2 linked regions of the Homo sapiens genome follow. The protein of the gene in region 1 purifies or fractionates together with the protein of each later gene. This does not show direct contact. Each region holds a gene or a part of one and is shown on either strand. Other genes may lie near its edges.

Region 1 (5,497 bases):
ATCAAGAGTTTCAAATTAGCTTGCTGAAGGTGACACACCTAGAAAGGCAGCAGACGTGAGTCTGCTGAGAGAGCATTAGAAGAAAAATACATAAATAAAGTCAGCAGATCTGGAACCTGAACCAGGCCTGTCTGACTGCAAAGTTGTGCTTAGAAGCTCTCTGCTTTACTGTTCCTCAGAATTCAGCTTTAGGCTTTGTTGATAAGGCCACAGATGTACCTTTACCTCAAAGTATCTACAGTCCAAACAACGCTAGGGCAAAACTGTCCTTAGCCTGTGGCATTCTTAGAAGGCAGCAGGAGGGTGAGCTGGAGAAGAAGATAGGCATGCCAGAAATATCCCAGAAATAAACCTGATTTACATGTCTTATTTTCTTCTCCTTTATCTGATAACTACTTTGTTTTTACCCTAATCCTTCAGGAAAGGCTTAGAGAGAATTCAGTGTTCAATTACAACTGCTGTCACAAACGCCCAGTATCTGGTAGCTTTACATCATAGTACAGTTATGCTTACTTGGGAAGACATATTTCTTCATATTAAATACAAATTAGTAAAATTTCATATTAAATACAAATGAATAAAATTATCTTTGTTTTCCTACACTCAGTGTTAGTTAGTATTTAACAGCTAAAGTATTAAGAGCAAAGGAGTTTCCAAACTTATGTTCTAAACCAAGTCAGGTCAGAGAATTCATATTAAATCATTCTATTTATGGGCAAATGTAGAAAGTTCTTTACATCGAGAATCAACCTAGAGAAGGTATGAGTTAGCTTTCTTCCTTTCTAAAACATTAGTTTCTGAGAATTGAAGATAAACGATTTTTTTTAATGAAATGCTTACAAATGTTTGGCTTTCATGCAACCCAGAGAATGAAGTGGTATTAATTTTCAATTTTGTTCACTCTTACATACCAGTGATATTCTTTGGATTAGAAACACATGGGATCCTGCCGCCTTCTTTTGTGTTTCTTCCCACTCTCCCGCTGGGCCTGGCCGGGACACCACATTCTGTAACCAGGGAACTGAAAACAGAAGAGCTTGTTCACAGCAGGCAAACAGCCTCAGGTCTTGTGCAGGGTTCAGACAGCTTAGCAGGGAGGCCGGGGAGGTTTACAGGAGCACCAGTGGAGACTACCTTTGTCTCAAAGCAGAAACTGATTCAGTAAAAAGTGGATTTGGGGTCAAAATGCGCGTGTTGATGTTCTAAAAAGTTAGAAGTTGCACACATTGCTCAAAAGAATCTAAGTATTAAAAAAGAGGTACCAGGCCACACCCGTGCTCTTTTTGATTCATCTGCACCTTTCCTCAGAGGCAGCTGGGCACTAGCGCAGCACAGCCTGCCGGTGAAATAGCAGCTCCATGCTGTTGAAGGTCTTATACTCCATACCAGCAATTCCTTCTTCTCACCTTCGGGGGCCGGTGATGTCTAAGCCTCATGATCTTTCTCTGCTTATAACTTCCCTATTTCTGTTCATGGCATCACTGCTCTTTCAGTCATCCTCATTGGAAATCTAAGAATAATTTTTAACTCCCTCTTTCCACCTGCCACTGGTTGACTAGTTGGCAAATCCAGTGAAGTCTGTCTTCAAATGTCTCCTCAAAGTTTCTTCCCACAGGTACCATCCTAGTCCATTCAGCCTTCCCACTACCAGTCAGATAGTGTGAAGCTGGATCTCATTGTGGTTTTTGCTTGTATTTTCCTAATTATTACTGAGGCTGAACATCTCATATATTTACTGGCCATTTGGGTTTTCCTCTGTAAATTGCTTAATTCTCTCCTTTGTTTTAATTTTGGGTTTTGTGTGTGTGTCATCGTAGGTGTGTTTTGTGGATTTGGGATGTCAGTTCTTTGTTTTATTCCTTTTTCTACCTCCCACTCCTGTTTTTCCATTTATCTTTGGTCCTGAGGGATACATGAGGAAGAAACAAAGCAAGAAAGTTGGGGAAGAAAGCAATGTCTCTTACGGGAACTGAAGTAAACACTTATTTTCTTAGTTCTGGAAGTGGAATTAATGGTGGAACAGTATAGTAGAAAGAGCATAAATGTTGGAGTCAGGCCTTTGTTCTTATCCCTGCTCCACTGCTTACTACCCACATAACTCATCCTGCTACTTCAGCTCCCTGGCCCTTGGTTTCATGTGTAAAGCCTGTCTTTGTGTGGTGTTGTATGGCTCAGGAGCAGGCATGCCTTTGCTGGCACTTACATATCAGATCCCCTTCCTCCTCACTCACCTGAGAACACCCATAGGACATCACAGACTGTTCCTCTAAAAAACAATATGTTCTTTCTTTTCGTCTGCAAGGTTTCTACTCCCATCACAGGGCTGGTTGTTGAGAATTCCTTGCTCTGAATTCTTTTTTTTTTCCTTCTTTGTTTTTTTTCCCAAGACAGAGTCTTGCTCTGTCACCCAGGCTGGAGTGCAGTGCCGCAATCTTGGCTCACTGCAACCCCCACCTTCCAGGTTCAAGCAATTCTCCTGCCTCAGCCTCCCAAGTAGCTGGGATTACAGGCATCTGCCACCACACCCAGCTAATTTGTATATTTTTTAGTAGAGACAGAGTTTCACCATGTTGGCCAGGCTGGTCTGGAACTCCTGACCTCGTGATCTGCCCACTTCATCCTCCCAAAGTGCTGGGATTACAGGCACAAGCCACAGCACCCGGCTTCTATGAATTCTTACAAGTTCCTTTATTCAACGGTCATTTACTGAGAACATTTTTGATGTCCAACATCGGACCCGTCTTAAGATCCAAACATCTGACGTGGTTGGTCTCTGTCCCTGTGAAATCCACAACCTTCTTGGAAATGTTAAATAATAATATCTAATTGGAGTAACAGGAGTGTTAAACATTATTATGTGGGATTTTTCTGATTAAAACCATCAAATGGGTTGTGTAAAGACCAATTTCCCATTGTCTTCTAATGCATTTGGGTCACACTGGTGTTGCCAGTTCCTTGTTCTTTTTCTTCCATCTCATTTATCTCAGTCTCTACTGACATTTTCATCTTTCTGCCATTCTCTCTTTTTTTTTTTTTAAGCCCTGTATTTCCTCATTTTAAAGTGGATTGTCAGCTGGACATGGTGGCTCACACCTGTAATCTCAACACTTTGGGAGGCTGAGACAGGAGGATCACTTGAGCCCAGGAGTTCTAGATCAGCCTGAGAAACATGATGAAACTCCATGTATACAAAAAGTGCAAAAATTAGCCAGGCATGATGGTGCACGCCTGAAGTCCCAGCTACTTGGGAGGCTGAGGTGGGAGGATCACTTGAGCCCAGGAAGTCAGGGCTGCAGTGAACCATGATCACGTCACTGCATTCCAGCCTGGGTGACAGAGCGAGACCCTTTCTTTTTCCCAAAGAAAAAGTGGATTGTCAGAGTTCTAGTCTATGAAAAAGCATCTATTTGCCTCACCTAAATTTAACCCTTTTGTAGCTTTTTATTCAAAGTGGAATAATATAGAATGCTATATAGACTATAACAAATATGCCCTTAATATACTCCATTCTATTTAATAATAGGAACTTCTTTTCTTTTATTTCAAGATACAAAATAACTTACAGAAGTTGCTTGAGAATGGTGACTGATCGACCAGATTGCTTGGGCCATCGGAATACCTCATGTTTCCCTTTGAAGAAGGTGCTTCCTGAGGCGTTTTGTTTGAGTGCACCCTGCTGGTCAGAGGTGCAAGCAGATGAGAATCCAGACATTGCATGTGGAGGTCTCCAGCTCAGGAAAGTGAGGAGGGAAATAATTTTGGTTCTTGTGCAATAAAAGTTGACCTTGACTCTCTGAGGAAGATTTTGCTGCTTTTGCCTGAAGAAAACAGACCCATCTCTGGAGGTCTCAGGAAGGGCCCAGCGAACACACTCTCTTGGATAATTACCACGATGGCGTCAGCAAACACTCCACCCTGTGCCTTTTTAGTCCTTCCCGCCCTCCTGCCTCTCCCTTACACCCCTCTTAACGACTTTCAAACTAAAGGATACATCATATACTGACAAACTCAATGTGGTCCTTTCAAGAATTAGCCATGAGTCTCAAAAAGGCAATAAATGGCTCTAAGTGGACAGGTTTGCTTCAAACAAGTAACATCTACATTTTGTCTTTTTTTTTTCAGTTCTCCTGTTATGTTCTGGTTGAAATCACCTGTGTGTCTTAATTTCTCAATTCCTTTTTGGCAAGAATATCAAGCAAGGTGAATTTAACATTATGTTTATGTTTTGTTTTGTTGCTGTAACTAATAGTTAATTGGACTGATTCTTACCCAGCCCTGGTCAAGAATCTGTGAGGCATGTGACTGAAGTACTAAATTAAACTTATTTTGAAACCAAACCTAATTTTTAAGCCAAAAGGTGTAATAGTGATTTAATACAGGATGAAAAACACTGAATTTTTAAGACTGTAGGTGGACTATGTTAGTAGTTTTCAAGCAGGATGTCTGTATTCAGCATTCAATAATGCTAAAATCCCTTTCAGCATGAAATTTGTATGTTTTTATCCTTTGCTGACTAAAATAAAATAACTGGTGGTTTGCTAACTATTTACCATATGGGTTGGCTGGTTTTTATTAATAATTGTTTAGGGTATCATAAGATCTGTAAGTACAAAGGATATTCTGTTTCTATCTGCAATGCATTTGATAATCATTTCTATGAAATGTATTTTATTTAATCAGATAAGCTAATAAGCGAATTGGTTACATCGTTTGTATCTGTTGGCCTAGTGGACAGCTGTGCCTGGTGCACCTCTGGCTTTTAATAAATACTCATTGGTTGAAACACCCTGCTAACACTGTGTTTTGTCAGTTCGTAAATTCCTTTAACCAAGACTTAACTATGCTTTTTAACTCTTTTTCCACCTGCCATCTACTACTACCAACTCACTTATACTTCCTTCCTCCCAAGTAATCATTTCAAAACTAAAAAAGGATTTAAGTTCTTGGGTTACAACGGTTTAAAGGAAAGAAAATGAACTTTGAAGTCAAAAAAAAAAGAAAAAAAAAAAAGACAATGCTTCATTCCTCAGTCCACATTTATGAGTTATGTGACCTTTAGCAAAATATTTGGCCATATCCCCCCATTTTATTGATGAGGTTGAAAGTACCAGTAAAAAGTATCAGTGTGAGGATTAAATGTGATAATGTCAGCCAGGTGCAGTGGCTCATGCCTATAATCCCAGCATTCTCGGAGGCCAAGGCAGGAGGACTGCTTGAGCTCAGGAGGTTGTGATCAGCCTGGACAACGCAGCAAGATCCCATTTCTACTAAAAATAAAAATAAATTAGCCAGGTGTGGTGATGCATGCCTATAGTCCCAGCTACTCAGGAGAATTGCTGAAGTCTGGGAGACTGAGGCTGCAGTGAGCCACGATCACACCATTGCACCCTAGCCTGAGTGACAAAGCAAGACCTTGTCTCAGTCAATCAATCAGTCAATGTGATGATGTCTCTAAAGCACATAGCCATGTCAGGCAAGTAGTATGCTTTCATAACAG
Region 2 (7,041 bases), on another chromosome or scaffold:
GTTACTCGTGATACCATGTTAATCAGTGAGAGGGTAAAGTTAGGATACCAACCTGTATCTATGTATGACCTTCAATTTTGTGTAAATATACACCTTATATGCACTTTTTAATACTGAAAGGAAATTCATAAACATATCAGCAAAGTTTAGCTCTGTTTTAGATGGAGAGAAGATGGCTAATTTTTATTCTTTGTTTAGATTCTTCTGTAATGAGCATTGTTACTTTTATATCAGAAAAATAGACATTTGCCATAAAATAAGTCTACCCTCAAATCTCTGATTTAAGACGACAATTGTCAGTCTTAGGAAAAGCCTGCTAAAGTTCAAAGCAGACTCAAAGAAAAAAGATTCAAATCTACACAGTGACTCTCTCCTGAAAAGGATGAGAAATCTTGTGTGACGCAGTCTGGCTTTTTCCTCTACTTTGCTGCTGGCTCTATTTTACTGCGCCTCACAGAAAGCTCCATGGGAAAACCCTTTCCCTAGCACCTTAAATGACCTTAAGTGTTTCTCACCTCTTGGCATGAGGATTAGAAGGAAAGAAAATGAAACAGCCCTACTCCCTTGTTTCAAAGGAAAAATTTTTCTTGCAAAGCTATCAAAATGACTTAAAATCAGCTATGCAAAATTTGAAACATAAGTCATGAGTTACGTTCAGTAACCAGTTGCTTTTTTCTCAAGAATGAATATAAAAACAAATCTATGAGTGCCCTCTTGTGGCAAGCCTGACTATTACCACAACCCAAGTACCAGCCTCTCCCTGTCTATTTCCACGGCTCTCCTCCACTCCTGGGCTCCGCATAACACAGCCAGGAGGCAGAGACCCCATAATAACCCACTACAGTGAATGCACATTCCTCAAAGTGGCTGGTACTATTTGTTTTCAAGGATTTCTAGTTTAGATCCCAGAAATGCCTGCCTGAAGACAAGTGGGAATGAAGGGTCAGAAGAGCAAGATGCAGGATGTGCACGTGGGTTCATGGGCTGCTACTGATGGCCGATGGTGACTGTGTCTGGTATATCCATGCACACATACCATGGCACTGCCAGGAGGCAGGGACCTGTAGGATAAATAGCCCCTCCCCTAGGAATGCCAGTTTTATAAAGTCGCGAAGTTTTACATTTACATCCAGTGAGCCTTGTGCTTACAAGTAGTTTTATTATTAATTTTAGAGTAAACATCACCAACTTGGGCACAATTCCAAAATAGAGCTCTTGTTGGATTCTGGTCATAAAATTCTTTTTTAAGCTTGTTAAGATCTTATAAAATAAGAAAGTTTTCCCAATACTTTAGAAAAATTACTAATCATTAATAAGTCGATTTTATACTCAAAGTAATGGCCTAACATTTTGAAAGATGAAACAACGCTCCTCTTTTGAACATCTAATGTATTAAGTAAGCTCAGTGTCCCAGGCTTCAGAGGAGACAGAGAAGTCCTCATATTGCAACCTGACCAGATGACTCTGGGAGTGAATTAAATGCTTAAAAGAGGTCAGTCTTGCAAATTCGATGAAGCACAGAATACAGGGGAACTGATACTGATTCTGATAAAAGATAACATTACTCTCAGAAAGGGGTGAAGCTAAAAATCTTGCAGTTCTGGGGCAGGAGGAGTGCAACAAGCAGGCAACAAACAGCATGAAAGGAAAAGCTGAGTGAATTTCAAAGTTCTATTGGGAGATGGAGTTTGTGGTTCTTTCTGCCCCACCCAGGTCAAAGGCTCATGTCCAGAAAAGGATTTCTCCCAGTGATAGGGTGGAAGTGTGTGGCAGGAAGTTGCTGTTTGGTCCTGGAAGTGTAAAGGAAAGCCTTTTCAAGTACGTGAAGTAGACTGAAGTGACCCAGATGGGATGGATCCCAACCACATGAGTTACGGGAGAGCATGAAGCCAAAGAAATGATAATTATGAAGTTGAATTGGGAAAATAAATTTGACTCCTTGTTCACTTCTCCAGCCTTTGGAAGAACTTTTTCTCCCCTCCTAACAGGACCGATATACTGGACAGCCCCTGTTAGAGATAAACCGAGGCACTAGACAAGGAAGAAATGCATTAAAAACATTTTTTTTAAGTCTTGACAAGTCACTTCTGGGAGAATTCTTCATTTTTCCTCTGCACAGGGACAGCAGAAGAGGGAGAGTAAAAATAAAGGCGAAGGCCTCTCTTGTCCACAAAAATGAGAGGAAAAAAGACCCTGCCCGTTTAAAATCCAAAACCATAAACTCTCCTTCAAACAATATCTTTGCTCCAGCAGAAGCATCCTGGGATTAGTCTAGGTTAGTATTCTGAGTTGTGTCACACAGGCTTTGACAATTAATGATGTACTAAAATGGGAAGAGGTGACTCTTCAACCTTGGCTCCAGCTTCCCACTTGTCCTAACTGGGAGGAAAGCAGCTATCAAGACAGCTGGATGGGAAGATCTTCCCCGAATTTCCGGAGCAGCTTCTGATGGTTGTGGTCCACTGACCACTGCTGGGGCAGGTGCTTGGGCTGCATGGAGTCCAGGAAGTGCTGACGCCAGCGGCTCTCCAGCTGCATGAGGGAGCGCAGGCCACCCTGGCTGTGACACTGCACCACCTTCAGCCCGTGAGGAACATAGTTTTCATTGGAGATTCTGCCAAAACATGAAAAACAAAGTGTCTGAGGGAAACAAGCGCAGGATGGCCTCACAGACAGCTTCAAATGCTGCGCGCCAAGGGTAACTGGGGAGGTTGAAGGACTCCTAAAGGGTTAGTTACTTTGGTGTTTTCGAAACATCCTCTTTCTTATCTCTGCCCTTTTTATAGTCTGAACATACGACTCGCAATCCCAACAGAAGGTATTTGAGGGTTCTGAGCTCTACTGACAGGAAGGCCACTTCATAATGTTCAGCTCCCACGAGAGGGGCACTACCATCCAGCTGATAATGGATGAAGAATGCTGGTCTTCCATTTCTTCCAGGATTACCCAGTGACCAGTTCACCCCTCTTTTAAGTTGTTCATTCTGGGACACAGTATTTATATGAGGCTGTTAAATCGGCCCGCATGTTACACTTTTTCACAACACAATTTAATAACTGAATGTCAAATGCAAGGTAGCATATTTCTTTAGAGCCTTTTTTCTCACAAAAAGATGCCAAGCCACAGTGGTGAGAAGTGTTTCGGTCACAGTGAAATGCTTCCATGGTTGCTCAGTTGTGCAAATGGTGCCATTAAATGAGAAGATGAATGCCTCCCTCCTTCCTAACTAAGCAGAGTCCTTAAAAAACTGCTCCGATGCTGTGTGAATGGTGCTTTCACCTCCTGTGAATAAAGATGACCTTCCTCAAGGAAGCACCCTGCCCACACACACTCTCCTCTCCCTACATCCATACCCCATGTTCAATCCTCCCTCCCAAGACACCCGCCACCCCAGCAGTGTTGGCGTCTCTGGGTATCTGCAGACACTTTATTATTAATATTTAGCTCATGCGCTTCCCACTAACTTGCCTGTCTCCAAACAACTGTTCTTCTCAGTCACAAGTCCAGCATTCATCTACCCAATTCAGCAAGATGAATTTGTTAGAAAAGTCTGTGGCCGAAAGGGGAGGTTTAGCTGCTTTAGAAAACATATTGGCAGCTGGGCGTGGTGGCTCATGCCTGTAATCCCAGCACTTTGGGAGGCCAAAGCAGGAGGATCACTTGAGGTCAGGAGTTCGAGACCAGCCTGACCAACGAGGTGAAACCCTGCCTCTACTAAAAATACAAAAATTAGCCGTGTGTGGTGGCACACACTTGTAATCCCAGCTACTTACAAAACAACATCTATTCTACAACCTCACAAAATAGTTATGGGGATAAAATTCTATAATTCTTTTAAAACCCTGAAAGATTTTTTAAATTTAAGATATAGTAGCAGTTAACCAGTAAGAAATCTAAATCCTACTTTGTCGGGTTGTCATGAGAAACAATTAAGGCAATTTATGTGAAGTTTATTAGCTGGTTTGCTGCAAGATATAGTATATCTATAAATAACTGTTCAATAAATATTTGCAGTATCTGTAATGGATCAGTAGTAATGGATAAGAGTAAAAAAATTTTTGTTTTCTAAAAAAATTAAATATTTGCTTATAATTGGAGTTACTTTTTTATTTTTCAGTTAACAAAAACCAGCATCACGCTCAAGGTTTTGTGAACTTATCAGTTCCCTTATTTCAACTCCTGGTCCTGTTGGAAAAAGTGACAGTTGGGAGGCAGAACTGCGCATGGTAGCCCAGAGCTCTTACCATCTGAGCCACGTGCCCATTCATTTCTCATTTCAGAATACTGCATTGTGTCACAAGAATTCAACTATGTACTCATGGAGAAGGAGGGAGAAAGCAAGGAAGGAAAAAAGAGAAAAGTAATTTACATAGTAACAGCAATTCTGCTCAACATTCCATTCAGTGAGCCGATACCCTGGAGTGCAGGTGAGATAGGAACCATGAATTCATTAGTCACAGTTCTCACAGACCTGTATAAAGTCGGAGACACAAAACCACACATAGAATTGGCCCTCCATCTTTGTGGGTTCTGCATCTGTGGATTCAAACCTCAGATCAAAATGATTTGGGGCCAGGCACAGTGGTTCATGCCTGTAATCCCAGTTCTTCCAAGGCAGGTGGATTGCTTGAGGTCAGGAATCTGAGACCAGCCTGGGCAGCCTGGTGAAACCCCATCTCTACAAAAAATACAAAGATTAGCTGGGTGTGGTGGTGCATGCTTGTAGTCCCAGCTACTTGGGAGGCTGAGGTGAGAGGATCACTTGAGCCTGGGAGGTGGAAGTTACAGTGAGCCAAGATAGTGCCACTGCACTCCAGCCTGGGTGACAGAGCCATATACTATCTCAAAAAAACAAAACAAAAAAACCACAAAACTATTTGGAAAAAAAAAAAAAAAAACTATCTGTACTATCTGTACCAAACATGTACAAACTTTTTTCTCATTACTTCATAAACAATAAAATATAAAAGCTACTTACATAGCATTTGCATTGTATTAGGTATTATAAGTAATTTACAGGTTATTTAAAGTATACAGGAGGATGTGTGCAGGATATATGCAAATACTATGCCATTGTATATCAGGCACTTAAGCATTGGTGGATTTTAGTATCCAAGGGAGGTCCTGGAACCAATCCCCCATGGATACTGAGGGGTGAATGTACTGTATCTCATGGGGAACTTCAGAACTTCGAGGGTGTTATTGGACTATTATTTCATCTCATGTGCTGGCATGAGGATTTACGTCTGCATAGAATGTGTAAGATGCAGCTCCACCACAACTGCACTCGCACGCTAATCACAAAAATGACCGAAATTAAGTGTATGATCTTTAAAAAGGTCAAAGATAGGCACCTCACAAAAGCAAGTTTCCTATGGAAAGGAACTCCTCAAGTAGATTGTTCTATTCCACTTCCAAGGTATCTTAAACTACTAGACACCTACTAGGTGAAGCATGAGGCTAGGCACTGTGCCTAAGCAGCCAATGCCCCCTCCCTGGCAAGCATTCTCACTAAGTAATGAGGGTTAATGTCCCTGGTACATTCCACAATTCCTGTGCTTTGTACCTGGTCTCCAGGCTGGCAGCCTCTTGAAGCATCTCCTCTGTGACCACGTCTGTGTTATAAAACTCTCTGAGTGCTTGCAGCAGCTCCTCCTTTCGCTGAGTAGGCAGGCTCTCCGCGTTGAGCAGGGCCCTGGCCCCAGAACGCACCTGCCGGCGCTCAGGATCTTCCAGCAGGCGCAAGCCCTCCTCAGAGCCGATGGGGGCCTGGAACTCCTTGGCCAGCTGCTGCTTCAGATGGTTGTCATAGTAGTTGGAAATGGCATGGCAGGAGGTGCAGAGCAGCAGCACATCGTGGGAGTTGTGGTCCTTCATCTCGATGGGGAAGTGCTTCCGGTACTCATGTGGAATCACGTTCTTCCTGGAACAAGCCCAGCCGGAAAGCAGCGCTCATAAGTGTATGACAGAGCACATGGGAAGACAGCAGACAGGCTACTGGGGTTCTAACTGGGGCCTAACCATGACTGAGAAGCCTTGGGCACCACCGCCCAACACAGATCACAGAAAGGCAGTATCACCTATTCCACTCTCAGCCCATCTGTGTCTTAGCTTCCTCTCTCCTGCAAGTAAGTACAGACCACCTGCTGTGGGCTTCAGTGGTGGGCCAGCATAGTGACAGGTTAATAACAACCTCTGAGAAGGCTGTGCTCCCAGAAGGGAAAGTCTCAGAGAACTGAAAAGATACTCTAATGGCCTTTGACAACTGGAAAACAACTCTCTCAAGAAGGCCTAGGAACCTGAAAAAGCCAATTTCCTTCATCTGAGGAATACCTTAATCTATTTCCCTGGTTCACCAGGTTCATCATTATTTTCTAAGGAGAACTAAGCTCTCAGGAAAAACTCTTGGCAGCAATGACTTTGTCTCACTTTGCAGGGGAGAAAGGAGGAAAGTGAGTGACTCCACAGAAGCCAGGGAGAAAGCCCAAGTGTCTGGGCACTCAGACGTAGTCGGCAGCCTCACCCTCACAGTGCAGGGGCCCTGATGTGAAACAGTATTACAACACAGAGCAGGCTTCAGGACATCTGGATACTCCATGAATAAAACCATGGCTCAAAAAGCTGGTCAGCCAGTCAAGAGAGGATGAGAGGGACACAGCTTCTGAAGGAACTGGTCTTCAGTCTTTCATGAGCAAAAGGGAACCACTGTCCCCATGACAGACCATTACTGAGTATGGTGTTGCACTCCAGAAACTGAGAAACGGCTCAGGAGGGGTAAGGGCCACTATAGCAAGGGCGGCAGAATACCAAAGCTCTTGGGGAAGCTGGATACTAGGAACAAGCCTCTCAGCCAAAGTGGACAGACTCAGCCACAGCCCCCAAAGGCTCTGCATATGGCTACAAAAGCAATTTCCATCTGCCACAGACAACCAGGGTGGCCCAATGCTGCACTCACCGAATGTAGGAGTCTCTCTTGCCACACACTACACACAGGTTCTCTTTAACCATCAAGTAATAGTCTCCAGGAGATTCGGGCCTTCC

What was found. The genes of interacting proteins can lie anywhere in the genome.
Region 2: the proteins of GRAMD2B (region 1) and EXD2 purify together in Homo sapiens (affinity purification with mass spectrometry; 3 studies listed by BioGRID and IntAct, with this or other methods). This does not show direct contact.

The regions. Positions count from the first base shown.
Region 1 is NC_000005.10:126,489,368-126,494,864, forward strand, and holds the end of GRAMD2B (GRAM domain-containing protein 2B), read left to right. Parts: intron 1-914; coding exon of another isoform or gene 915-917; exon of another isoform or gene 918-3,547; coding exon 3,548-3,589; 3' UTR 3,590-4,997; downstream 4,998-5,497.
Region 2 is NC_000014.9:69,236,457-69,243,497, reverse strand, and holds part of EXD2 (exonuclease 3'-5' domain-containing protein 2), read right to left. Parts: coding exon 6,956-7,041; intron 5,924-6,955; coding exon 5,567-5,923; intron 4,428-5,566; exon of another isoform or gene 4,281-4,427; intron 2,615-4,280; coding exon 2,398-2,614; 3' UTR 1-2,397. UniProt on the Homo sapiens protein: Exonuclease that has both 3'-5' exoribonuclease and exodeoxyribonuclease activities, depending on the divalent metal cation used as cofactor.